Homo sapiens: one gene and its partners. The protein of the gene in region 2 purifies or fractionates together with the protein of the main gene of each other region. This does not show direct contact. Each region holds a gene or a part of one and is shown on either strand. Other genes may lie near its edges.

Evidence for each region. The genes of interacting proteins can lie anywhere in the genome.
Region 1: the proteins of LMNB2 (region 2) and DHX40 purify together in Homo sapiens (affinity purification with mass spectrometry; one large-scale study listed by BioGRID and IntAct). This does not show direct contact.
Region 3: the proteins of LMNB2 (region 2) and RTEL1 purify together in Homo sapiens (affinity purification with mass spectrometry; one large-scale study listed by BioGRID and IntAct). This does not show direct contact.
Region 4: the proteins of LMNB2 (region 2) and DDX59 purify together in Homo sapiens (affinity purification with mass spectrometry; one large-scale study listed by BioGRID and IntAct). This does not show direct contact.

What each region holds. Positions count from the first base shown.
Region 1 is NC_000017.11:59,605,225-59,609,222, reverse strand, and holds the end of DHX40 (probable ATP-dependent RNA helicase DHX40), read right to left. Parts: intron 3,778-3,998; coding exon 3,549-3,777; intron 2,191-3,548; coding exon 2,051-2,190; 3' UTR 878-2,050; downstream 1-877. UniProt on the Homo sapiens protein: Probable ATP-dependent RNA helicase.
Region 2 is NC_000019.10:2,442,312-2,447,654, reverse strand, and holds part of LMNB2 (lamin-B2), read left to right. Parts: intron 1-3,114; coding exon 3,115-3,251; intron 3,252-5,343. UniProt on the Homo sapiens protein: Lamins are intermediate filament proteins that assemble into a filamentous meshwork, and which constitute the major components of the nuclear lamina, a fibrous layer on the nucleoplasmic side of the inner nuclear membrane.
Region 3 is NC_000020.11:63,663,809-63,668,688, reverse strand, and holds part of RTEL1 (regulator of telomere elongation helicase 1), read right to left. Parts: intron 2,686-4,880; coding exon 2,610-2,685; intron 1,221-2,609; coding exon 1,136-1,220; intron 1-1,135. UniProt on the Homo sapiens protein: A probable ATP-dependent DNA helicase implicated in telomere-length regulation, DNA repair and the maintenance of genomic stability. Acts as an anti-recombinase to counteract toxic recombination and limit crossover during meiosis.
Region 4 is NC_000001.11:200,666,731-200,672,222, forward strand, and holds the start of DDX59 (probable ATP-dependent RNA helicase DDX59), read right to left. Parts: upstream 3,178-5,492; 5' UTR 3,037-3,177; exon of another isoform or gene 1,884-3,036; intron 1,036-1,883; exon of another isoform or gene 631-1,035; intron 211-630; exon of another isoform or gene 116-210; intron 22-115; 5' UTR 11-21; coding exon 1-10.

The DNA.
Region 1 (3,998 bases), on a different chromosome or scaffold from region 2:
TATATTATTTTAAAATGTTAATGTTGTGAAAGACAAGGACTGAGGACTTTTTCCAGATTAAGAGACTAAATACAATACGTGATCCTAGACTAAATCTTGAACTACAGAAAAATGCCATAAAGGACATTACTGAAACAACAGATATAATTTGAGTGTGAGGTGTAGATTCAGAATATATGCTTAATATTTACTAAACTAGAAGAGCTCTCATTCCAAGAATCCACACACTCCCACCACATCTGAGGATATGCCCTTATACAATACACCTGAGAAGAGAAACTGACAGAACTAAATGATTAATATGTGCTAATAACAGTGTCTAGAGCACTAAAGATAAAAATGAACAAATTAGGCCAGGCGCGGTGACTCACGCCTGTAATCCCAGCACTCTGGGAGGCAGAGGCGGGCGCATCATGAGGTCAGGAGATCAAGACCATCCTGGCTAACACGGTGAAACCCCGTCTCTACTAAAAAATACAAAAAATTAGCCAGGCATAGTGGTGGATGCCTGTAGTCCCAGCTACTCGGGAGGCTGAGGCAGGAGAATGGCGTGAACCTGGGAGGCGGAGCTTGCAGTGAGCCAAGATCATGCCACCGTACTCCAGCCTGGGCGACAAAGTGAGACTCCGTCTCAAAAAAAAAAAAAAAAAAATTAACAAATTAAAACACTGGAAAGGTTTAGAGAAACCATCATCACTCACCTTACTTTAGGGACAAATACATGAATTTGGGTCCTTGTGATTTTTGATAAAGATTTCAAGTTTCTATTATTGAACATAAAACTAGATTCCAAAGGAAATAACTAGAAGAGTTACCGATAAAAAATTTAGATTCTTAATTTTTACACAAAATATCTAAAAACACACATTATACTGTCTTTTGAATTTTAATGACACTAATAGCTTTATTTAACAAACACTGAGTGACTACTATGTGCAAAGCACTATGCTAGGTGCATGAAAGATACAAAGATGAAAAAAGACACAGTCCCTGCCCACAAGGAGCGTATAATCTAGTGAGGGAGACAAATACACAAATAACTAGAATACAAGGCAGTAAACAAGAGTGGGCAAGTGCTGAGTGTGGCCTGAGTGTGATACTAACTAGCCTCAAGGTTCCAATTTGAAACACGATGAAATAGTGTTGTCTGCTTCGAAAATCCCATCCCAAGTTTGGCATAATGGAAGTTAAATGGCCCTACCCAAACAGGTGGAAATAACAGAGTAGGCCAGGTGGAGGCGCTGTTTGAAAGTACTATCACACCTACATACATGGTGCTGATATAAGTACGTAGGTACAGCTAAAAAAGAACTTATATATATATATATATCATATATATATATATCATCTGTCCTTTGGTTAATGGCTATAGCTACTGTTTTAAACAATATACTTTTATATAAAAAGGAATTTGTATAATCCCAGAAAAATCAATTTAAGGATTAATATTAATTCAAGAAAGAATCCTGCCATAGGCAATTTTATTTACTAATTGATTAAGTCTTTTCTCTAAATATCTATAAAGCTCTGTAGCAATTAAACAGTTAGACATCTAAGTATTGCTGAGTAGAAACCTCTTATGTTCAGCCTTCTGAAATAAATGGTCACATACCTGATATATAGCACTATTCTAACAGCAACAAGAAGGCCTTAAAGAGATTTTAAGAAAAATAATTTTTAATGCTTCAATGCAAATGGAGTACACGCTGATTAAATACAACTCAATGTTCTTTGAAAACATCTCAATGACAGCGTTTGATACCAGTTAAGGCCAGCAAAATTGTACTGAGGAAAATATTATTACATGTACTGTCTTTCATTGGTTTCATGTATCATTGCTTATGACTATGGCAACCAAATCTTTTCTTTGACAACTGCATTTATGGGAACTGATGAGCTTTGATTTATGAGCTTTGATTTGCTTTTAGTTCATAGGCCAATAACAAGTGCTGACCACCTCCTCTTGGTAGTGCTGTCTGAAATAACTGGCAAAGTAGAAGCACATTTCCTGGCTCCTTTTCCCACTTCCTGAATTGGAGGGTTCACCACCTTAGCCTGTTTCCTTTCGTGTGTCACTGTGGTCCTGGGTCCTCTGCTGCTTTCTCTCAAGGAAACGAGCCCGTGCATCAGATATGGATTTGTCATCATTTCTTCTTTGCATTTTCTTTAAGACGTCTTTCGATATTCCATCTGAAAACATTACAAATTAATCCAATAAAACTTAGCTTTGAGATTCAGTACTAGAAATGTTAAGAGAAAGAGAAGCCCTGATTTTTCAGTGTTAACAAAGTAAAAACAATAAAGAGAAAAATTAAATTTTGCCCTTTCAAAAGCAATGTAGTCTATGGTTACAAAATTAAGAGCACCAAGGCCAATGAGTCAGAAAAACTGACCCTAATTCAAGCATGTGGCAGTGTTATTACACTGTAATAGAACACCTAGTGGCTAAGATTTCTTTTCTTTTTTTTTTTTTTTTTGAGACGGAGTCTCACTCTGTCGCCCAGGCTGGAGTGCAGTGGCGCAATCTCGGCTCACTGCAAGCTCTGCCTCCTGGGTTCACGCCATTCTCCTGCCTCAGCCTCCCGAGTAGCTGGGACTACAGGCGCCCGCCACCACACCCAGCTAGTTTTTTGTATATTTAGTAGAGACGGGGTTTCACCGTGTTAGCCAGGATGGTCTCGATCTCCTGACCTCGTGATCCGCCCGCCTTGGTCTCCCAAAGTGCTGGGATTACAGGCGTGAGCCACCATGCCTGGCCTCCCTAGTGGCTAACATTTCTAAAGATTTTTCTATGATTTATTCGGCAAAACTCTTCACCATTCCATTTTGCAGTGATGTCAAATAAAGAAAATACAATATGCTTCATCATTCAGCCTCAAAAAGCTTTACTAAGAAGTTTTCTGTGTATGTGAGCTGAAAAACTTTCTGTCCTATTTCAGTACCACAACTATTTATGCCTCCCAACCAGGGTCCTAATTATTTCATAGAAAAAGCCCCTTGGATATACAAACTTAGCCAGGCGTGGTGGTGCATGCCTGTAATCCAGCTACTCAGGAGGCTGAGGCAGGAGAATAGCTTGAACCGGGAGGCAGAGGCTGCAGTGAGCCAAAATCACACCATTACACTCCAGCCTGGGCAATAAGAGCAAAACTCCGTCTCAAAGAAGAAAGAAAAAGAAAGAAAGAAAGAAAAAGCCCCTTGGAAACAAAGGGGATTCTGAGTTAATAATGCATAAATCATCACTTTTTTTTTTTTAGAGATAGTGTCTCACTCTGTCACCCCCAGGCTGGAGTGCACTGGTGAAATCACAGTTCACTGCAGCCTCAAACTCCTGGGTTCAAGCGATCCTCCTGCATCAGCCTCCCAAGTCACTGGGACTACAGGTGCACACCAACATGCCTGGCTAATTTTTATTTTTATTTTGCTAGAGATGGGATCTCACCACATTGCCCAGGTGGGTCACAACATTTTTATAAACAAAAATAGTGAAGTACTACTGGGAAGCAGTATGGCATAGTGGTTAAGAGTAGAACAAATGATTTACTCACCCTTTAGCTGCTTTACATTTTCCTTATTTGTCCATCTCCTTCTTGCATCTTCTCTCACTTCACGTCGGGCCACACTGCTCAAATCATGTGCATTAAATTCATGCAACTTGGGTAACAAGTCTCTTACCCATTCATAACGGATTGGGCATACAATTCTTGCGTAGACTTTGGTGGTAACCAATACCTCATGAAAAATGATCCATTCAAGTTTGGTTTCCTGTTCATGAAGCTATACAAAACATTTCTTTTAATGATGGTAACTCAATAACCTGCCCTATTCCACATTAAACCAACCAAATAGTCCAAATCCTTCTCAATTAATTCCTATCTTCTTCAAACAGGAGGCACAGGCCAACCAATACCCTTATAGATCTATGTAATATAGATATATGTAAATTTAACTCCAAAGTGAAAAGTAGAAGACATTTGTATATTACTTATTTCTACAAC
Region 2 (5,343 bases):
CACGGCGTTCTAGCGGGTGGTGCTGGGCCTGGTTCCGCCTACCATCCTCCGGTCCTCCTTTTCCTCAGCGCCAGAGCCGGAGCAGTTAATTCCCGCCTCATAAGGTTCACCCAGCTCACCCGTAGGTTTCGCGTTTTCATATCTCCACAGCTGTGCCACCACCAATGTGTCCAATTTTAGAACGTTCATCCCCACTAAAAGAAGCCTGTCCCCCTCAGCGGTCACTCCCCGTCCCCTTCTCCAGCCCCGCTGCCCACACACCCGCTGCCTGTGTCTGTGCACTGGCCTGACCTGGACATTTCATGGAAATGGGATTACACACTGTGTGGCGTTTTGTGTCTGGCGTCTCATGAGTGTGACATCCTCAAGGGGCATCCACACTGTGGTGTCAGAACCTTGCTCCGTTACACAGCTGGGTCATGTTCCTGTGTGTGGATGGTGGAGGGACCGCATTGCTTTTATTTTTTTATTTATTTTTATTTTTCATTTTATTTATTTATTTATTTATTTTGAAACTGAGTCTCGCTCTGTCTCCCAGGCTGGAGGGCAGTGGTGCGATCTCGGCTCACTGCAAGTTCCACCTCCCGGGTTCATGCCATTCTCCTGCCTCAGCCTCCCAAGTAGCTGGGACCACAGGCGCCCACCACCACGCCTGGCTAATTTTTTGTATGTTTTTTTAGTAGAGACGGGGTTTCACTGTGTTAGCCAGGATGGTCTCGATCTCCTGACCTTGTGATCCGCCCGCCTCGGCTTCCCAAAGTGCTGGGATTACAGGTGTGAGCCACTGCGCCCGGCACCATGTGTAGTTTTCAAACATGCATGGATGTGAATTTCATGTCTTCTGGGTCCACACCCAGGAGTGGAGTTACCGGGTCACAGGGTGGCTCTGTGACTCTTGGGGGAGCCCCTGGACTGTTTTCTGTAGAGCTGTCTCAGCTCAGGTTCCTGCCGCTGCCTGTGAGGTTCCGATTTCTCTGCGTACTCGCCCGCACCTGCGACTGTCTGTCTTCTTGACGGACGCCCTGGCTGGTGCGAAGTGGCATCTCACTGCGGTTTGCTTCCACATATTTTTAAACTCACTGAGTGCATGGCCCTGTGGGAGGAGGGGAGGCAGGAAGGCCACTAGAAGCCTGAGCTGTGCCCCCAGCTGGCGCGTGCAGAGGCCGGGCAGGTGGCGGCTGTGGTTGCAGCAGGATTAGTAGGAAGTGAAGAGGTCGCCTTCCCTGGCACCGCATGTGCCTCGAGTTCACCTGGAGGCCCTCGAGAGGGGCGGGTTTGGGGGCTTTGCGCGGGGCTTAGGGAGGGGCTTTCTTTAGCTGGGCGGCCCAGAGGGTGTTCCAGTCGCTTCTGCCTGCCCTGGTGACCCCTGGCTCTCCAGCCCCTCCCCATGTCCTTGCTGGCTGGGCTGGGTCTCCGTCGGGAAAGGTGGGGGCCGCTGGTGGGGTGGGGAGCTGGAGACTCTGACTACAGATCCCTGTGATCGAGGGGTGAAAGGTGGGGGTGACTGGTGGGGGGGGCAGCTGGGGACTGACTACAGATCCCTGTGATCGAGGGGTGAAAGGTGGGGGCGGCTGGTGGGGTGGGGAGTTGGGGACTCTGACTACAGATCCCTGTGATTGAGGGGTGAAAGGTGGGGGCAGCTGGTGGGGTGGGGAGTTGGGGACTCTGACTACAGATCCCTGTGATCGACGGGTGAAAGGTGGGGGCGGCTGGTTGGGGGGGGCAGCTGGGGACTGACTACAGATCCCTGTGATCGAGGGGTGAAAGGTGGGGGCGGCTGGTGGGGTGGGGAGTTGGGGACTCTGACTACAGATCGCTGTGATCGAGGGGTGAAAGGTGGGGGCCGCTGGTGGGGTGGGGAGCTGGGGACTCTGACTGCAGATCCCTGTGATCGAGGGGTGAAACGTGGGGGCCGCTGGTGGGGTGGGGAGCTGGGGACTCTGACTGCAGATCCCTGTGATCGAGGGGTGAAAGGTGGGGGCCGCTGGTGGGGTAGGGAGCTGGGGACTCTGACTGCAGATCCCTGTGATCGAGGGGTGAAAGGTGGGGGCCGCTGGTGGGGTGGGGAGTTGGGGACTCTGACTACAGATCCCTGTGATCGAGGGGTGAAAGGTGGGGGCCGCTGGTGGGGTGGGGAGCTGGGGACTCTGACTGCAGATCTCTGTGATTGAGGGGTGGGAGCTTCTGTCCTGGAGCCTCCGAGCCACCACATTGGCAGCTGGCCTGTCGGGGGGACACAGCATGGGAAGGCCAGATGCTCCTCCCTCCATCCCAGGGAACAGCCCAGCCTGAGCCTGGGCCATGTGCCTGCGTGTGAGGTAGGGGCACAGAGGGGCACGGGCTGGCCCCCGGTTGGCAGAAGTGGGGGATCTTGGGCTCAGCGGGGTCTGGGGGAGCGGGGGCTCCAGGTTGCAGAGGCCTGGGGGGAGTCTCAGGGGCCCAGAGGGGTCTGGGAGGGGACTCCAGGTTGCAAAGGCTGGTGGGGGCAGGGGGCTCTCAGGCCCAGTGGGGTCTGGGAGGGCCCCGGGTTGCTGTCATCACCAGTTGTCCGAGAGTGATCAGCCCAGTGTCCATGGTGCCCAGCGGGAGAGATCCTTGATTAAACATCCCACCAGTTTTCTGGTTCTGAAACCGAGAGTGTGAAAAATGCATCTAATGGCCAGGCATCGTGTCGCTATGACAGCGGCCAAGGGGCTGCATGTCCAGGTGTGGCTGGTCCTCCGGGGAAGGGGACAGGCTCCATCCAGCTGCTGTGCTGGTCCAGGCCCAGGGCCTTTGGTCTCCAGCACTGGGCGCCGCTGTTCTGGGAGCTGGAGCTCGTGGAGAGACGATCATTCCAGAGGGGGCCGCAGCAGAGGAGGAGGCTCCTGGGATGGCTGGGACCCAGGGTCGCCTGGCTTCCTCCTGGTTACCGGACCCTCCCCGACAGGGGGCTCCCTTTGCTGTGTCTGTGAGATGGGCAACACAGGGTGTCCCAGTGTCCCCAGGCTGCCATCCTCTCTCTCTGCGTGCCAGTCCCTGGGAATCTGAGCAGGGCCAGTGGCCGGGCCCCCTGACTGCTGTAGTCCAAGGGGAAGGGTCCCTCTCGCTTCACCCTGTCCTGGGTCTCCCCAGGTGAGTGGCATCAAGGCGCTGTACGAGTCGGAGCTGGCCGATGCCCGGAGAGTCCTGGATGAGACGGCTCGAGAGCGTGCCCGGCTGCAGATAGAGATTGGGAAGCTGAGGGCAGAGTTGGACGAGGTCAACAAGAGGTGAGTGGTCACGGCTGGGCACGACGTCACCCTGATCCTGGCACCACGGGGTGGACGGGGGCAGGTGGGCGCTGGGCTCGTGCGGGGCATGCTCTGATACGGGCACAGCCTGGAGCTCACAGCTCCCATCCTCTCTCCCCCACCAGTGGCTGCCACGTCACTTTTTCTGTTCTGAGGAAAGTGATAGATGCTCACATCGGACAGCAGGAAGCGCAGGGCAGCTTAAGCTCACAAGTAAAATCTCCCGCGAGCCTCCCCAGAGAGGGCTTCCTGGTCAGCCTGGCCTGTCTCCTTAGTGTGCACACGCGCTTGCACATGCTTACCTAGACCCCGGGCGGCACCCAGTGGACACCGTGAGACGCGTTTGACCTCAGGCCCCATCGTAGGCATTTCCCTGTGGTTGGATGTTCTTGGTGCCGGGGTTTTGTCCCAGCTGTTGGGACGCTCGGGTGTGTGGTGTGTGACCAGGGTGCTCATGGGTTGTTGGGCTGCCCCAGGGTTGGCTGCAAAGTCCTTCTGGGTGACAACTGTGTCCATCGGCAGAAACGATCTCCCCTCTCAGCCTGGCAGTGAGTCTTGCCTGATTCTGGGCGTGGGATGTGGTTGGGCGGCAATTTAAACAGAACGATGATGACAAAAGGAATATTTATTCAGAGGAGCCAGGAGGCCAATGAAACACTGAGCTCAAGGCTTTTCTTGATGTGAGGCTCCAGCTAGAGCGAGGTCTCTGGTGCCCTGCGTGTGGACACTGTCTTCCGTGGTCTCCGGCCACCGGCATTCAGGCACCTGCAGGTGCCTCGGATTTCCTCAGGCTGGGGTGGGTCAGGGTCTTCCCACACTGCTCATTCTCCCAGAGCCACGCAGGCCTGGCTCAGCATGGAGGGATCTGCTGGCAGGAGGGGTGGCACCTCGGCCACCTGGTACGGGGGTGACAGCAGCCAGTGGCTTGAGAATCCACGTTGTCCCTGAGTTGGAGTGTGGCCAGAGGAATGACCGGGGACCCTGTGTCCAACAGTGCCGGGGCCCCCATGCGTGGTTGCAGGTGACCTCTCCATCCGACGCCCTCCTCCTTCCTGGGCTGGCGCTGCTCCCGTGGAGAGCTGACTTCCCTTCCCCAACAGGAGACCCTCCAGGTCAGCCCAGGGACCACCGCCCGCCTGCCCGGGGCCTGGGGCTCCAGGAGGGACCATTTGTGCCCTGATGGTGGCCATGAGCCGGGGACCCTGGGGCCAGGCACCAGCCAGGACAGGCTGCCCACTCTCAGCACATCCCACACAGCACAGGTGCACCCCGGGACCTGCTCAGGCAGCAGCTCTGTGCTGTCTACCTCCAGCACCCACCGTGTTTAATAAGCAGGTTCATCAGTGGAGCCATGCAGGCTGTGGGATGACTAGAGCTTGGTCAGGGGTGCACGGAGCTCTGAAATGTCAGAACTACACCGTGCAGATGGGACAGAGCTGCTGCTGGCCCCGCACCAGGCGCCTCTCAACTGTTCACTTTAAGATGTTGAAATGTACAGGATGTGAATTTCACCTCAAATTAAAACATTAAAAAAAGAAAATGGTACACAGTGCCCGCCCTAGGTGTTGAGGAATTCCCAGTTCACAATCTCCTGAGCAGTGCGTGGCATCTACAGAGAGGCCCGTCTTTTCCTTTTCATTAAGACAGGGTCTCTGTTGCCTAGGCTGGAGCTCAGTGGCACAATCATAGCTCGCTGCAGCCTCGAACTCCCAGGCTCAGGTGATCCTGCCTCAGCCCCACCCCGAGTAGCTGGGACCCCAGGCATGCACCACTACACCCAACTAATTTTTTTTATTTTTTATTTATTTCCTTTTGAGACATAGTCTTGCTCTGTCACCCAGGCTGGAGTGCAGTGGTGCAATCTCGGCTCACTGCAACATCCACCTCCCAAATTCAAACGATTCTCCTGCCTCAGCCTCCTGAATAGTTGGGATTAGAGGCTCACACCACCTTGCCCAGCTAATTTTTTTACCAAGTTGGCCAGGCTGGTCTCAAACTCCTGGACTTAAGCGATCCACCCGCCTTGGCCTCCCAGAGTGCTGGGATTACAGATGTAAACCACCATGCCTGG
Region 3 (4,880 bases), on a different chromosome or scaffold from region 2:
AGTCACCCACAACCACGGCAAACCTCACCAGCTCTCTGTGGGGTTCTGCTACAGCTTCCCAGGAGTCGGCCCCCCAGCCGCCCCCACTCACCTCTTCCCTTGCTCTGCTGCACCTGCTGAGGCTCCCCTCAGACCCACCAGCATTCCCCACCTCCCGCCGACATCGCACTTGGGCCCGCTTGGCTCGGTCTCCGCCTCCTCCCTCTGCTCTATTTCCCTTCAGTATCATCAGCTCACGTGCTTACTCTTTTGCTGTCCACCTGTCCCCACCACTAGAATCAAAGCTCCATGTGAGTGAAGCCAGTCTTGCTATGCCTGGAATAGCACCCAGCATGATGAGCTCTCAATAAATATACACCCCGAGAATGAGCGAACCAACGACGGGATCTGGAAACGTCACCACGCCATCGTCACGTGAACACACAAACCATTGACCCGTGGCGTGTGATCCCACCTGCACTAAGTAAAAAGTGTGGGGCACAAAAGCAGGGCACATGGGGAGGAGGGCAGCAGGGCCGGGCACACACTGGGAGGAGGGGAGTTGAGTGTGGGGCCGGGCACATGCTGGCGGGGGGAGTGAGCGTGGGGCTGGGCACACGGGGCGGAAGGGAGTGGGGCTGGGCACACACTGGGAGGAGGGGAGTGAGTGTCAGGCCGGGCACATGCTGTGGGGGGAGTGAGTGTGGGGCCGGGCATGCACTGGGAAGAGGGGAGTGAGTGTGAAGCCGGGCACATGCTGGGAGGGGGAGTGAGTGTGGGGCCGGGCACGCGCTGGGAAGAGGGGAGTCAGTGGGCTTCCTGTGTTCTCGGTGCCTCCCATGGCCTGACGTGAAGGAGAGAACCTGAGCTGTCAGGATCAAGAGCGGGCACTGGCCTATGGACCACAGCCTGGAGGTCTCTCCTCACTCCCACCAGCCTGCCCGCTCCCAGACTGCTCAGAAAACTGACCTGTGGCCTGGGGCTGCTCACAAGTGTGTCTGGCCAGGTTGAGCCCCTGCCCAGTGACAGAGGTGAGTCCTCCCACCCAGGCCTGCTGATCTAAGGCCCTGAAGCAGCAAAGGCTCGGACAGCTGTTCCCAAGCCCAGGGACACCCCTGGACATCAGGAGTCGTCAGCTACAGGACTGAGCCCCCACCTTGGCATCCAACAAGTAATTGTACGGCATGAATATGATGTCGGCTTGCTGCTTCAGGTTCCGGGACAGGTAGTAAGGGCACACCCTGGGAAGGAGAGAGGAGAAGATCCTGTGAGCACCCCATGCAGGGGACGGTGCCCCGAGGCCGCCATGTCTTCTGACCCGGAAGGAGCCCTCATCCTGCACGTAGGGCCCAGGTGGGAAGCTGCTGCCTGGGATGGATGGGAGTCCACGTGAGTTTCTGACCAAGGGATGGGGAGTCCATGTGAGTTTCCGACCAAGGGATGGGGAGTCCTCGTGAGTTTCCGACCATGTAAATCGTCGTCTCTTTAAAAACTCGATGGAAAAGTAAAACCAACCCTATTCCTGGATAGAAACAAACACAACGCAGAACCACTAAGAAAAAGCAGAGCTGGGCCGGGCGCGGTGGCTCACTCCTGTAATCCCAGCACTTTGGGAGGCCGAGGTGGGCGGATCACAAGGTCAGAAGATCGAGACCATCCTGGCTAACACGGTGAAACCCCGTCTCTACTAAAAATACAGAAAATTAGCCAGACGTGGTGGCGGGCACCTGTAGTCCCAGCTACTCGGGAGGCTGAGGCAGGAGAATGGCGTGAACTCGGGAGGCGGAGCTTGCAGTGAGCCGAGATCGCACCACTGCACTCCAGCCTGGGCGACAGAGCGAGACTCCGTCTCAAAAAAAAAAAAAAAAAAAAAAAGAGCTGGCCAGGCATGGGGTCTCACGCCTGTAATCCCAGCACTTTGGGAGGCCAAGGCAGGTGGAACTCTCGAGCTCAGGAGACTGGCCTGAGCAACAGAGTGAGACCCTGTCTGTACAAAAAATACAAAAATTAACCAGGCATGGTGGTGTGTGCCTGCAGTCCCGGCTACTTGGGAGGCTGAGGTGGGAAAATCGCTTGAGCCTGGGAGGCTGAGGCTGCAGTGAGCCAAGACTGTGACACTGCACTGCAGCCTGGGTAGCAGAGCGAGACCCTGTTTCAAAAAAAAGGGGGAGGGAGGTTTCCCCCTCAATATAAGAAGAGCTTTATTATAACTTGAATCTCTGAAGCTGTAAGAGGTAGACATAGGAGACATCTGCTGTCCTCAAAAGAACAAGGCCGAGCTGCCAGCACCAGCATGGGAAGCTATACCCACAACGCTGAGTGAAAACAGCCAACTGCAGGACAGTCTGTGCAGACAAAACTGCGCGTGCTTCCGCACAGACACAGGCCTGCAGGGCTCCGTCCACACTCCACGGTGGCCACCGGGGATGGCTGAGGGCCAGGGAAGAGGGAGACAATTTTTTACTCTATCTTCCTCAGAGCTGCTTAAACTTTTTCGTACTGAATGGTGGTTAGTTTCATAATTTAAAAAGGAACAAAGAAAAGTGAAGAAATATATCCGGGCCTCCACAGGTCACAGGAGAGCTGGGCCATGGAAGGACAGTGGTCGTGGCCTCACTGAGGGGTCTCACCTGTGCTTGCTTCCGCTCTTGACCAAGTCCTCAATGTCCAGGATGGGGCTGGCCAGCTCCTGCTCCAGGCTTTTTTCTGCAGGTGTGAGGCAGGGGTAAACACACACCCTCAGGGTCCACTAAGTCCCAGACCACAGGGGGATGCCCAGGACAGAACGGCTCCTACACGGCGGGCAGGGCTGGGCGTCCCCCACCAACCGTGAACGCGCCACAAAGCACCCACTGAGGGTCTCAGGTGCCCAAGAGAGGCCCCCACCCGAGTGATCCTGAGGGAATCCTCCTCTGCCCCCAGAAGGCCTGAGGTTCAGGGTGGACCAGACGGAGGCCAGCAGGATCCCGAGGGTTCTACGCATCCTCTCCGAGACAGCCCAAGACAGGACAGGAGTGGCGGCTACACTCAGCCCTCCTCAGGGCAGGGAAGAACAGCCCCTCAGCCTATCGCCCCAACCCACAGAGGCATCTCCCACAAACCCCTGCAGGTGCCCCTGTGATTAGCACCGTCACTCAGCTTCCCTGCCAACCACAACAGGCCCAGAACTTCCAGCTAAGGGAGAGCCAGGTTTTCCTGGGCTAAACAGTGGCCCACTCCCCTCTGCAGCATGGCAGCCCTGGCAAAGGACACTGCCTGTACTGGCGGAGAGGCCCCGGGCAGAAAAGGCTTCAGAAGTCAGAGTCTGGGGGATGTCCTGCCCCTCCCTTGCCTCTACAGTACAGGCCCCCCAAACTGGAACCACAAGAATTCCTTAGGGAGTTGCTTAAACACAGACAGAACCAGATACCTCTTCTAACAAGCACCCCAGAGTCACAGGGCAGCCACGTGGGGCAATGGGGCCTCCCCCAGCTCCCGACTCCATCATGGCTGCTTTGTGCCTGTCCCCAGGAGGTGCCAGGCCCCCCGAGGGCCAGGACTCAGCTGCAGAGGCCAGAAGCGCACACATATGCACACGTGCACATACACACACACACACACTCACACACACCAGCGATGACCCAACCCCAGATACTCCCAGGGATAGCAGGGAAGGCAGGGGAGGAAAAGCACACCCCTGGGCAGCACCATAGCAACAGACCAGCCAATCAGCAGGCACTGCCGCACAGCGGCACTTGCCAAACCTTGCCTGGCGGAGAGCTGAGGGCGGGGCGAGGACAGGAGCTGCGAGGGGAAGGGGCACGAGGGGCGGGGCCGTCCCAGAGGCTCTGCCCCAGGCTGACCCCAAGCTTGCTGTCCCCAACCAGAGTCCTCACAGGACGCAGGCCAGGAAGGGTGCCAGCTCTCCAGCTGTCTCCTCATTCGCCCAAAATACCTGCCTCCCTTCCTCTCAGACCCCTCCAGGAGCTGCAGCCCACTCTGAAGATGCTCAGGCCGGTGCAGGTGCTGCAGACACCCCCTCACAGCCTGTCCGGTGGCAGACAGGGTGCGAAGGTTCACGGCTAGGCAACCTCCCGCCAGGTCGGGCAGTGAGAGCCCAAGCCAAGGGGGACAGGCAGGGGCTGGCCTGTGTCTTCCTGGTCTGAGTCCACAGGCCTGGAGGAGGAGACAGATGGGGGCCCCAATACCCAGAGGCCTAACACAGACGGAAGCAGCACCAGGAGGCAGTCAGAGGCCTCCCCACCAGGTCCCAGGCCCAGCATCCCCACCAGGTACCAGGCCCAGCGTCCCCACCAGGTCCCAGGCCCAGCAGCCACCGGGGCACTGCCCTTGTCCAGGACCACGGCCGGCCAGGCCCATGCTCAGCGTTCCATGCTATCCCAAGGACCCCCGCTGCATGGGACTGGGGACACCCAGCAGGCACTCCTGTCCTGGAAATCCAGGTGAGGACCTCGGAAATGACGCCTGCTTGAGAATTTCCATCAGCACATCTGCCCAACCCCCCGTCCCAGAGTCACGTCCTGCAGGCATCACCGGGACGAGCCGGCAGCTCCTGTCAGGGAACCTGGGGGCACAAAGGCAGAGCCCCTTCTTAGGACCAACAAAAAGGCCTGGACAACCACACATCAAGATGACTGAGGGTCCTTGGTGCCACCAGACCAAAAACCACAGCGAACAAGAAGCAACACAGAGGATGTCTCCAGCAACACAGCACATGCCTCCAGTAAGCGGGAGCCTCCCTGCAGGCCCATGTTCCGCCCACCCTGTCCCTCCAAGGGCCAGGGCCCAGAAACGCCTGGTAGTGGGTCATGCGGGACCACCTGGCTCAGTCTCTGCCAGGGGAGCGCCGCCCTAAATACAAGAGCAGCTTCAGGGTCCTCAGTCCTGGCACACTGAGCACT
Region 4 (5,492 bases), on a different chromosome or scaffold from region 2:
GAACAAACATCCTTCAATATTCTGTTAAGGAAATTATATAATGAGATTTATTGTACCATTAATAAAGTTCACATATAAAGTACCATATGATTAAGGACAAGGTGCGGTGGCTCACCCCTGTAATCCCAGCACTTTGGGAGGCCGAGGCAGGCAGATCACTTGAGGTCAGGAGTTTGAGACCAGCCTGGCCAACATGCTGAAACCCCATCTCTCCAAAAAATACAAAAATTAACTGGGCATGGTGGCATGTGCCTGTAATCCCACCTATTCGGGAGGCTGAGGCAGGAGAATCACTTGATCCCGGGGGGCAGAGATTGCAGTGAGCCGAGATCGTGCCACTGCCCTCCAGCCTGGGTGACAGTGAGATTCTGTCTCAAAAAAATTTTTAAAAAGGCCAGGCGTGGTGGCTCACACCTGTAATCCCAGCACTTTGGGAGGCCGAGGCGGGCAGATCACGAGGTCAGGAGTTTGAGACCAGCCTGGCCAATATGGTGAAACCCCCGTCTCTACTAATACAAAAATTAGCTGGGCATGGTGGCGCACACCTGTATTCCCAGCTACTCGGGAGGCTGAGGGAGAAGAATCTCTTGAACCCAGGAGGCGGAGGTTGCGGTGAGCCTAAGACCTCACCATTGCACTCCAACCTGGGCAACACAGTGAGTGTCCTGGGGTTATGCCTGAAAGGAATAGTGAGGACATCATGACACTCTTTATATCAAGCTTTTCTTCCATTCGCCAGCTTCCACTGATGAAGAGATGGAGTCCTCTTCCTCACACATAGCAGTGTTGTAACACTGCACACTGCTCAACATAGCCTTGTACACATGGTCTATTTCCGTTTACTGATTATTTGCACTTTGAAGTATCAGATATTATAGAAATTCTGGGGTAAATCCTTCTATTATAGCATCAAAAAAGAAAACAGGAGAAATACTTCACAATTAGAATCTTTAAAATCAAAGCCACAAATCATAGAGAAAATGCTATTTTCATAAGTAACACTTAGTGTTTATTATATGCCAAGCACAGTGCTTCACCTAATCTTCACAACCATGTAAAGCAGTTAGCATTGCCTAATATATATATATACAGATATTTTTTCATTATGCTATACTAGGTATATTACATAGAGTAATATACACAAGACTAATATACATAGTATAGCATAATGAAAAAATAATATAGTAATATACATAACATAGCATAATGAAAAAACGTGTGTGTGTGTATAAAACACATTATATACACTCAGAAGAAACTGAGCCACTTAGAAATTAAGTGGTTTGGGCTGGGCGCAGTGGCTCACGCCTGTAATCCTAGCACTTTGGGAGGCCGAGGCGGGCGGATCACGAGGTCAGGAGATCAAGACCATCCTGGCTAACACGGTGAAACCCCGTCTCTATTAAAACAAAACAAAACAAAAAAAATTAGCCGGGCGTTGGCGGCAGGCGCCTGTAGTCCCAGCTACTCGGGAGGCTGAGGCAGGAGAATGGCGTGAACCCGGGAAGCGGAGCTTGCAGTGAGCCCAGATCGCGCCACTGCACTCCAGCCTGGGCAACAGAGCAAGACTCCGTCTCAAAAAAAAAAAAAAAGAAAAGAAATTAAGTGGTTTGTCCAAGCTCACACAATTCTTAAGTGTTACAACCCTGGCACTGTGGATCCAGAGCACAAGCTCTCAACCATACGAGGACTAAGCTCTAATTTTTTATCTTACCCAAATTCCTTTCTAAGGGGTCTGGAGAGTCATGCCCTACAAACCATAAATTCTCATCAGATGGGTTTTATTTAACCCTGTATATCGTGACTTACTTTCCAATCTGACTCTGGCCTAACAAGGAAGAAAATAAAAATGTTTTACCCCAAAATATATTTCCTTGTCGTACCTTAAAACTCCCCTGCAAAGTCTCTTGCAGGAAAAATCTGCATTTGGTGAGAATTCCCATCTCCCCTTGTTTTCCCTCCTTCCTTCCCAGATCCAGGAGATAATCAACTAAGAGCCAGGCACCCTTTTAAGTCCAATATAAAACAATTTACAACCTGCTCTCTCTAAAGTCTATCTAAGAGCTTCCTCTGCACAATAAAACTTGGTCTCCACAATCCTTTATCTCTAGCCTGAACATTCCTTTTTATGGATCCCAGGTCTTTAGATAACCTCAACCAGATAACGTTTACATTTACCGATTGAGTTGCCCCGCCTTTCTAAACTAAACCAATGTATTTCTTAAATGTATTTGATGTCTCACGCCTTCCTAAAATAGATAAAACCAAGCTGTACCCCAATTTCCTTGGGCACATGTTCTCAGGACCTCCTGAGGACTGTCACTGGCCATGGTCACTTGAATCTGGCTCAAAATAAATCTCTTCAAATATTTTTCAGAGTTTGATTCTTTTCATCAACCCATATCTATACCTTTTTACACCAAAAACATGTCTTTGCAAAATTACAGTTATTGGGAATAAGGCTTTTAACCTAATCTGGGGACTATCAAATATACTAATAAATATTTTTCTTAAAAAAATTCTTTGTTTAAACTGCCAGATTCCAACTTCCAGAAAAATTCCAACAGAAATGCAACCGAGGGTCTAGAATTACTATCCTAAATCTCCGAAAATGTACAGGGGGTGGCGGGCGGGGCAGGGACGGCTCTAGGTGAGCAGGAAAAAGCTTGGAACTCAGTCTTCCAATGGCGAAAGGGAACGTGCTCCTGCTGGGCGGGACGGCGGACGGCTGGCGGCGGCGCGGCCTCCAATTCTCGCCAACGCGCCCCGCACCCCCGTGCACTGGCGGGCCCTCCCCTCGGGCGTTGCCTCCCACCCACGCCCGGCGGCACCGCACCCCGAGGCGCTTCACGTCACGGAGCTGCTAGGAGACGGGCGGGGCTCCGGTTCCGGGTAGAGGCCTGGGACACGGGGAACTGTAAGGATGGGAGGAAGGCCGCGCAGGGGCACCAGTTCTGCCGCCGCGGCCTAGCGCCCCAGGTCCCGGAGAAGGGGCACCAGGGCGGCCAGGGGCCCAAGCTTCCGGGGCACGCTCACCCGCGCAGGACTGAGGCCGCGTCCGCTCCCGCTCCCGCTCGGGCCGTCTCCCCCTTCCAGGCTCCAGGCCAGGCTTCCGCCCGACAAGCCCTGACCCGCTCGTCAGGACTGCGGCCCGGGGTTGGTGGTGCGGAGCGGAGCGGAGCGGAGCGTAGAGTAGAATCCACTTCCCCGGGTTTTGGGAGGGGGCCGCAGCCCGCTTTCCGGGCGGCGGGGAGGCGGGGCCACCGCGGGGGCGGAGCTCGGCTGGGAGCCGGCAGTGGCTTGGGAGGGAGGGAGGGAGAAGGAGAGGGGCGGGAAGGCTCCTCGCGTTTTCCACGCCCCCGCCCAGCTCTGGGCTGGTGGTAAATCTCGGAACTGGTCCGGGCTGGGCGAGTTCTGGACGGAGGGGCACGTTTGGGAATCCTCTTGGAAGAATTTACGTAATCGAATGGGCTGGGACTGGTGGAAAAGAGTTGGACCGTCCGGAAAGAAGCAGGAGGGCGGCGCGGGGGCCTGGCACCCTTAGAAAGTGGGAAGTGTGAGTGTAAAAGGGAGGGGCACTTCTGCCCGTTGGGCCCAAAAACCCTTTTCTGGCTTTAGCTAGTAGAGCCACTCAAAATTTAAACGGAGTCAGCTTGATGTGGCATATATGATAAGCTGGATAATATTTCCTGCACCACCGCACCCCTCCCCCCACCCCAACACCAACAAGAAAATAACACAAGTCACGGTTCTTGTTCCTTGTGGGCTGACATTTCCCTGTTTTGCCAACCTCTGGAGCCACGTGTCCCAAGCAGCTTGTAGTTGAGAAGTGATGGGGGAGAGGAGACAGCACGGGAGAGGAAGGAGGGAAGCCAGCTTATATTCAGGTGCCTTAAGTATTTAAAAATATTTTCAGTGTAATAGTCGATGCATTCAAAAGAGCATATTTACCAAATATGTAAAATTTAAAGTATGCTAATGAAACTATCACTCCACCACGTTATCAGTATTTAGCATGTATCTATGCATCTCCAGGATTCTACTCCTGGCCTCTTAGCTCACCACCACTATCTTCAGTTTTGTCCCTCTTTGCCATTTTTAGTGGTTTTATCATATTTGGATGCATTCCTGTGTATTGGTGTATTTTTCTTCTTTTTGAGCTTTATAAAAATACATATAGCCTGGAATTCGCTTTTTATCACTCAACATTTGTTTTTTTGGTTCATCCAAGTTGTTACGTGTAGTAACAGAACATTTATTTCTTACTGCCTAGTCAAAAGGAAGTTTTCTCCTGTCAGGAATGTATTCAATACTGTAGCGGATAGGATTATAAATGCACTTTAAGTATTTTCTTTATTGATGGGAACCACACAGACTAAATGTATCAGACTTCCCAAGTTCGTAGGTCACATACCTATAACAGAACTCTTTTCCTGGGTTTTGTGACATTTCTAATTGTTGTAATTTCTTTTGCCATTATAAAAATTAGTCACTTTTGAACCTAATTTGTATTCATCATTCTGAATCTTTTTCTTTAAAAGCCTCCTCTTTTCCAATTATATAAGCTCATACCCCATAAAACCTGAATCTGCCCCTAGTAATTACTAATAAGGCTAGTAGGAGCATTCTTGTTCACCTTCTGTGCATGCGCTGGACTCTAATTTGAACCTAGGATTAGCACTGCGGCATCAGAGGCTATGGGGGCTGTTCAGCTTTCAAAGATAAAGCAGAAATGTTTTCAAAGTGGTTGTACCAATCTATACTGCCACCAGTACCGACCACAATTCTCTCTAAATCCTCGTTATTTTCACACTTCTTACTTTTTGCTAGTCTACCCAGAATAAATACCATGTTTTTGTCTTAATTTGCATTCCGTAATTACTGATAAGGCTGAGCACTTTGAAATATGTTATTCATTCATGTTTTCTCTTCCTCTTCTAAGGATGTGTGTGTGTGTACATATATAAATGTATATATAATGTATATATGTATATATAATGAAACATTCTTTTGTTAATTGTAGGTGTTGCAGATATCTTCTCCCTGTTTATAGTGTGTTTTCAAATAAAAAAATTTTTTGACTTATTTTGAAAAAATCAACCTTATCAAAAAGTTTCAGAATTAATGAACTCCTGTATACCCTTCACATAAGTTCACAGTTTGCTATATTTGCTATATTAGTGTGTAGGAGAGATTATATATATAAAATATGTATACTATAGATATATATTTTTTTCTGAACCATTTAGGAGTAAGTTGTAGCATGTGTCTCCAAAGACAATGATATTCTCTTTTATACTCACAGAAAAATGTTCCAGTTGAGGTTGTTTGTTTTTTGAGACAAGGTCTCACTCTGTTACCCAGGCTGGAGTGCAGTGGTGCGATCTCGGCTCATTGCAACCACCTCCCGGGCTCAAGTGAGGCTCCCACCTCAGCATCCCGAGTAGCTAGGACTACAGGCACACCCCACCTGTTAGAGAGAATTTTTTTGT